Homo sapiens: one gene and its partner. The protein of the gene in region 1 purifies or fractionates together with the protein of each later gene. This does not show direct contact. Each region holds a gene or a part of one and is shown on either strand. Other genes may lie near its edges.

Region 1 (3,653 bases):
ACAATTATTTGTTCATGCATTCATTCAACAAATATTAACCTAACATTGGCTATACGATAAGTACTGTTCTAGGTAATGGGGATACTGCTGTGAACAAAATAAAGTCCCTGTCCCCACGAACTCAGCTTGGAACCCAAACTCTTTTTTTTTTTTTTTTTTTTTTGAGAGGGAGTCTCGCACTGTCCTCCGGGCTGGAGTGCAGTGGCGTGATCTTGGCTCACTGCAACTTCCACCTCCTGGGTTCAAGCGATTGTCCTTCCTCAGCCTCCCGAGTAGCTGGGATTACAGGTGCCTGCCACCACACCCAGCTAATTTTTTGTATTTTTAGTAGAGATGGGGTTTCATCATGTTGGCCAGGCTGGTCCCAAACTCCTGACCTCGTGATTCACCCGCCTCGGCCTCCCAAAGTGCTGGGATTACAGGCGTGAGCCACCACACCTGGCCCCAAATTGTTTCCCTACCGTAAATGCCTAGAGAAGAAATCACTGTCAGTGGTATGAGTAGTTATAAGGTTCTTGATACAATCAATTTGAACTGTAGTCATCAAAATTCAAGAACTGGGCCATCATGGTGGCTCACACCTGTAATCCCAGCACTTTCGGAGGCTGAAGCGAGTGGATCACCTGAGGTACGGAGTTCGAGACCAGTCTGGCAAACATGGTGAAACCCCGTCTCTACTAAAATACAAAAATTAGCCGGGTGTGGTGGCACGGGCCTGTAATCCTTGCTACTCAGGAAGCTGAGGCACAAGAATCCCCTGAGCCTGGAAAGCAGAGGTTGCGGTGAGCCAAGATCGCACCACTGAACTCCAGCCTGGAAGACAGAGTGAGACTATCTCCACAAACAAAAACAAACAAACAAACAAACAAAAAAAAAAGGAAAAAAAATCAAGAACTGAACAGATATGAATAAATTTATAAATTTTCAGATGAAATTATCCTGAACTCTCTTGACATCCAATATCCAAACCAAATAAATTCAGGTATTGAACTCTTGCTATCTAAACTCAGGAAGGGAACATATTTGGATAGAAAGGAATATTTTTAATTGGCCACCAAAGCACTCTGAACAAACACCTTCCAAAGGCATATCCCTTTTATAAAGCATTTCTAGGATGCTGGACTGAATCATCATATATGAGGATCTTCACAAAATGAGTATATTTCTAGAAAATATAAAATGCTAAAATTGGCAGAAGAGATGAAATGGTAATCAAAAACCAGCTCCAGATGCTTTTATTTTATTATTTTTTGAGACAGGGTGTCACTCTGTCACTGAGGCTGGAGTGCAGTGGCATGATCATGGCTTACCACAGTCTCAACCTCCCAGACTCAGGTAATCCTCCTGCCTCAGCCTCCTGAGTAGTTAGAACTATAGGCACCTGCCACCACGCCCAGCTAATTTTTGTATTTTTTGTAGAGACAGAGTTTCGCCATGTTGCCCAGGATCGTCTCGAATTCCTGGGTTCAAGTGATCCAACTGCCTCAGCCCACTGCGCCCAGCCTCCAGATGCTTTTAAAGGTGAGTCCTACCAAGTTTTTCGAGGTACAGATAATTCTTATACAAGTTTCTCCAATAAAGAGAGAATAACAAAGGCTGCCCAATTCATGTAATGAGGCTACCTTGATTCCAATGCCAGATAAATACTGAAAATAAAAATATTGGACTACCTCACTGATAAATACAGGTGTAGATATCCTAGATGATACAATGGCTAATAAAATCTAACAAGGTTTTAAAAATATACATAAATCACTTAAATAACATTTCTGCCAAAAACTCATGAGTAAGCATCAGAAAAATCCAAACTGAGAAACATTCTATAAAACAACTAACTTTAAAACATGCTTTCAATATAATCCATAGGTTCAGGAAAAAAAAAAATGACAAGGTCATAAAAGACAAAGATAGAATAACTGTTTCAGATTAAAGGAGACAAGGAGCTCAATGCAATACATGATCTTGGACTGGATCCTGGATTGGGGAAAACCATTATAAAGGACATTATTGAGAAGAGTGATAACATCTGAATATGGGCTTTATATAGAATAAAAGTACTATATAATTGTTTAATTTCCTGATATTGATAAGTATATTGTGGTTATGGAAGAGAACACCTTTGTTCTTAAGACGTACATGCTGCCAGACTTAAAAGGTCATGTCAGGCTGGATGTGGTGGCTCATGCCTGTAATCCCAGCACTTTGGGAGGCCGAGATGGGCGGATCACCTGAGGTCGGGAGTTTGAAACCAGCCTGATCAACATGGAAAAATCCTGTCTCTACTAAAAATACAAAATTAGCTGGGTGTGGTGACGCATGCCTGTAATCCCAGCTACTTGGGAGACTGAGGCAGGAGAATCGCTTGAATGCAGGAGGAAGAGGTTGCAGTGGGCCGAGATTGCACCATTGCACTCCAGCCTGGGCAACAAGAGTGAAACTCTGACTCAAAAAGAAAAGTCATGGCTGCCACCAACTCAAACGATTAAAAAAAACGTGTGTGTGTGTGTGTGTGTGTGTGTGTGTGTGTGTGTGTGTCTATGTAAAGATATAGAGCTATAGGGTGGGCCAGGCGCGGTAGCTCACGCCTGTAATTCCAGCACTTTGGGAAGCTGAGGCAGGTGGATCACCTGAGGTCAGGAGTTTGAGACCAACCTGACCAACATGGTGAAACCTCGTTTCTAATAAAAATACAAAAATTAGCCAGGCGTACTGGCAGGCGCGTGTAATCCCAGCTACTTGGAAGGCTGAGGCAGGAGAATTGCTTGAACACAGGAGGCGGAGGTTGCAGTGAGCCAAGATCACGCCATTGCACTCCAGCCTGGGTGACAGAGTGATTCCGTCTCAAAAAAAAAAAAAAAAAAAAAAAAAGATATAGAGTGATAGAGCAAATGTGGCAAAATACTTAAAACAAGTAATTCTGAGTAGAGGATATATGGGAATTCATTATACTTTTTCTTGCAACCTTTCTGTAAATTTGAGATATTTTCAAAGTAAGAAGTCATAAACATATACATACATACCATGATCAAGTGGGGTATAGCTCAAGAATGCCAAGGATATCATTTAATGCAATTTACAAAATTTTTATTTATTTTTTTGATATGGAGTCTCACTCTGTTGCCCAGGATGGAGTGCAGTGGCACGATCTCAGCTTATTGCAACCTCCACCTCCCAGGTTCAAGCGATTCTCATGTCTCAGTCTCCCCAGTAGCTGGGATTACAGACATGCTTCACCACGCCTGGCTGATTTTTTTATTTTTAGTAGAAATGAGGTTTCACCATGTTGGCCAGGCTGGTCTTGAACTCCTGGCCTCAAGCGATCCAACCACCTTGGCCTCCCAAGGTGCTGTGATCCACCATGCCAGGCCACAATTTATGAAATTAATGGACAAAGGGAGAAAAAAAGCACAGGATTTTGAAGTTCAATACTTATTTATGGTCAATCTTAGCAAACGAAGATTAGATAATTTTCTTGATTTATTAAAGGATACATTCTAAAAACTTACTGCATGCACCATACTTAATGGAGAAACTTTAGACACATTCCCTTTTATTCCTCTCCCTTCTTCCTACTGTCTCAACTGCCATGTGCTGAGGATGGCTACACAGAAGGGGCTGCCTGTCAGCCCTAGATTAATTGCTCTTCTGCAGAC
Region 2 (3,653 bases), on another chromosome or scaffold:
CAAGTCTGAGTGCAAATATTGAGACTCCCTGCCTTGATGGGCTCTCCTTTCATAATCAGGAATGCCCTTGAAGACCATCTAATCATCTACTGCAAAGTTCACAAAGCTCTCAGGGTGAGTCCTGCCAGCAGATGTGCCTTTTTTTTTTTTTTTTGACATATACAGTAGTTTAAAAATAATCTCAATCAGTTGCCAAAGTCAAAAAATAAGAAACATTTCTGGTTTCTCTTGAAAAAAGTAAAGAGGAGGTCTGGTACAGTGGCCTTGCATTCATTATTTTTTTTTGAGACGGAGTCTCACTCTCTTGCCCAGGCTGGAGTGCAGTGGCACAATTTCGGATCACTGTAGCCTCCACCTCCTAGGTTCAAGTGATCCTCCTGCCTCAGCCTCCCAAGTAGCTGGGATTACAGGAACGCACCACATGCCTGGCTAATTTTTGTATTTTTAGTAGAGTCAGGGTTTTACCATGTTGGCCAGGCTGGTCTCGAACTCCTGGCCTCAGGTTATCTGCCCGCCTCGGCCTCCCAAAGTGCTGGGATTACAGGTGTGAGCCATTGCGCCCGGCCTGGCCTTGCACTCCTAAATGCTTATTAGAAACCTGAGTGGAGTGGCAGCCGCCCTGTGGGTGGGCTTATGGTCTCCAAATTGCCAAAGTCCTCACTATTCCCTGTGCCACTTCCAACACTCAGGCAAGTGTCAATTGCTATGCATCATCACACTTGTGTTATTATTTTTTCTTTTTTTTCTTTGAGACAGAGTCTCGCTGTGTCACCCAGGCTGGAGTGCAGTGGCGCAATCATGGCTCACCGTAGCCTCGACCTCCTTGGCTCAAGCGATCCTCCTACCTAAGCCTCCCAAAGTGCTGGGATTACAGGCCTGGCCACTGTACCCAGCTATTTTTCTAACAGTACAGTTAAGGATAAAGTGAAGTGACTAGAGACCGATGTCTCTATGAAAGGCAGGAGAACAAAGTCTTTTGGAAAATGGCTTGGAAAAGCCATGTGTTGCAAGAAAAATGGGCAAAGGGACATACCTTGGTGGCAATGACAAATACATCTATGAATTTACCATGCAAAATGTGTCTTGCCCATTTCACTCATGTATGCATCTCTTTGGCCCCTGAGACAGTGATTTTGTGACCCTTAGTTGAGAACAACCATCTTGTTGTGCAGATAAGGAAACTGAGGTCCAGGAGCTAACTGGCTTCATGCCAATTAGAGGGGCTGGGATGATGATGCCCAAGTCGGGCTGCTCTTTGGAGCTTACCTCTGCTGGCTGGCTGGTCGTCCCCATGACTACTGCTGCCAGCATCCTTCCTTGAGCCCCTCCTCCCACTAGCAGGGCGCTCTCTGTTGGGGGGCTGGTTAAAGATGTCTGAGTCATCACTGTGGACTTTGGTGGTTGCCCTCTGGGGTCTCTCCTTGGTGTTGACACTCCGGCTGGTCCCCCACCCTGGCTCATGCCGTAGGCCTTTATCCCTGGCCTCGGTCTCTCCAGGACCCTCACCGATGACATCGTCTGATGGGAGCCTGCCCTTCCAGGCCAGGGGCTTCTCGGGACTAAGCCAGAGGGGTTTTGGCTTCCTGCCTCCCTGCTTCCTGTCCTTGCCGGTGGGAGAAGGTTGTAACCAGGATGGGGTTTTCCCGGGTGGCTCACAGATTTTTCTGCCCATGAGGTTTTCCAGTTGTTGGATGAGAGAGGGCTCCTCATGGACAGGAGGGCACTTCACAGGTGGGGAAGTGGCAGGAGCACTGGGCATGTCACCCATCGAAGTGGGGACTGCCGACAGTCTCAAATATTCCTCTAACTGGGACAAACTGTCTTTCCTGCAATTAGTAGAATTCTTTCTTTTGCCAGACACATTTCCTTGTGAAGAAAGCTTTGCATCCGCTAATGTTTCAGCTGGCGGTGAGCAACCGAGACCAAGCTCCTTGTCCCCGCTGGCACCAGCCATCTCATGGGTGCCTTTGCTTTCTTCCGAGTGAGCGTTCATGGCCTCCTCTAGTTGCTCGCTCTTCTCGTTCTTCTGGTCAACCAGGATGCTGTGGTCAGCTGGGGCCTCCCTATCTCCTTTGTCTAACTTGCCATTGAAGATGAGGTTTCTGTTGACGTAAAGCTTCACGTTCTTGGCACCAATGTCAAGATCCTGAAACCATAAGATTTAACAAAGTGAAGATGCATAGCATCAGACTGATGTATGAAATTTTGGAAGTCGAAGATACCAAAAAAAGAAAAGAAAATGTGAAATGCTAGAAATGCAAGCTTTTGAAAACCACAGTGCTGGGGGTGTGAAACTAGGCTTGGTCTCATTTCTGTGGGAACCGCTACATACTCTATAAATCAAAGGACTTTCACAAAGAGACGGCCTCAATCGCTGCCTTCGTCATCATTACCTCCTGTCGGGACATTCGTAATAGCCTACTAATGGGTCTCCCTGCTTCCTGTCTCTTGCTACTTTAACTTGGACTTCACATTGCCACCAGAGTTCATTTCCTACCAGAGCAAATCTGTCCAGTCATTCCCCTGTGTGAAATCCTTCATGTTTTTTCACAGCCTATAGCAGTGTTCTTTAAAGTCCAGTTCCTGAGACCATCTGCGTCGAAAAGCCTGGAGTGCTTATAAAACAGCTTTCCTGGCCTCCGTGGGCATCATAATTGGGAGACCGTAAAAGCAGAGGCTGAGACAAGGACTCGGGTGCAAGTCGAGTATTTGGCAGGTGATTCCAAGAGGAAATGGGGAAAGCAAGATAGGGCAGGAAAAAGGAAAAACCCAGTTTTTTTGAGCTGGTCACTGCTGTGGCCAACTGGTGCTCCTTCCCACGGGGGCCCTCTGCGGCACTCCAAGATCTCACTTTCCCCAACCCTAGTCTTCACCTATCTTAAAAATGGCTCCATCATTGAAGCAGTGGCCAAAAACCTCGTGGCCCCCTTGATCCCTCTCTTTCTCACTTGCCCATCCAATCCGCCAGCTGTCCCTCGCCTCTCTCTCCAGAACACTTCCTGGGTCTGACCTCTTTACCTGGAATGTGCTGCTGCCTTCCTTGCCCAGGCCACCAGGGTCTCTACCAGAGACACCACTGCCGCCTCCTAATTGGTCTCTCTGCTTCCACTCTGCGTTGTCTCCTCCAAATCCCTGCACTCACACTTCATTTTCTATGCAGCAGTGAGTTTTTTTTTTTTTAACTGAAATCAGATCATGGGAGTCTTCTGCTTAAATGCATGTCGCAAATGTCTCTCCAAGACTGGGACATTTATCCACTGCTTGTTGAAGGCTGCCCTCAGGGCACTGATGCCCCAACACATGCACGAGCTGAGTGTGCTCCCACGGCAGAGCACCCCACGAGCACCTGAGGCAGGGCACTGTCCACATGCGGGGACTGTCCCATGTTCACGGCAGCTGCAGTTGGAAGGGAGCCAGGAGGATGCCGTGTGAGGACCACTGCCTCAAGGCAGCCTGTAGGTAACTTCTGGACTCAGAACAAGTTCTCCGGATGATTTCTTCACACGACGGGGTGCAGAACCATGCCGATGATGGGATAAATTCCAAAGCTCTCCACATGACATACAGTAACCTTCACAAATGGTCCCCACCTCGCTCTCCTCTCTCACTGCCAGCCTAAATGCCCCTATGTCACGCAGGTTCAACTCTCTTCC

What was found.
Region 2: the proteins of RBM10 (region 1) and KATNIP purify together in Homo sapiens (tandem affinity purification; one large-scale study listed by IntAct). This does not show direct contact.

The regions. Positions count from the first base shown.
Region 1 is NC_000023.11:47,151,657-47,155,309, reverse strand, and holds part of RBM10 (RNA-binding protein 10), read right to left. Parts: intron 1-3,653. UniProt on the Homo sapiens protein: Binds to ssRNA containing the consensus sequence 5'-AGGUAA-3'. May be involved in post-transcriptional processing, most probably in mRNA splicing. Binds to RNA homopolymers, with a preference for poly(G) and poly(U) and little for poly(A).
Region 2 is NC_000016.10:27,738,534-27,742,186, reverse strand, and holds part of KATNIP (katanin-interacting protein), read right to left. Parts: intron 2,147-3,653; coding exon 1,267-2,146; intron 1-1,266. UniProt on the Homo sapiens protein: May influence the stability of microtubules (MT), possibly through interaction with the MT-severing katanin complex.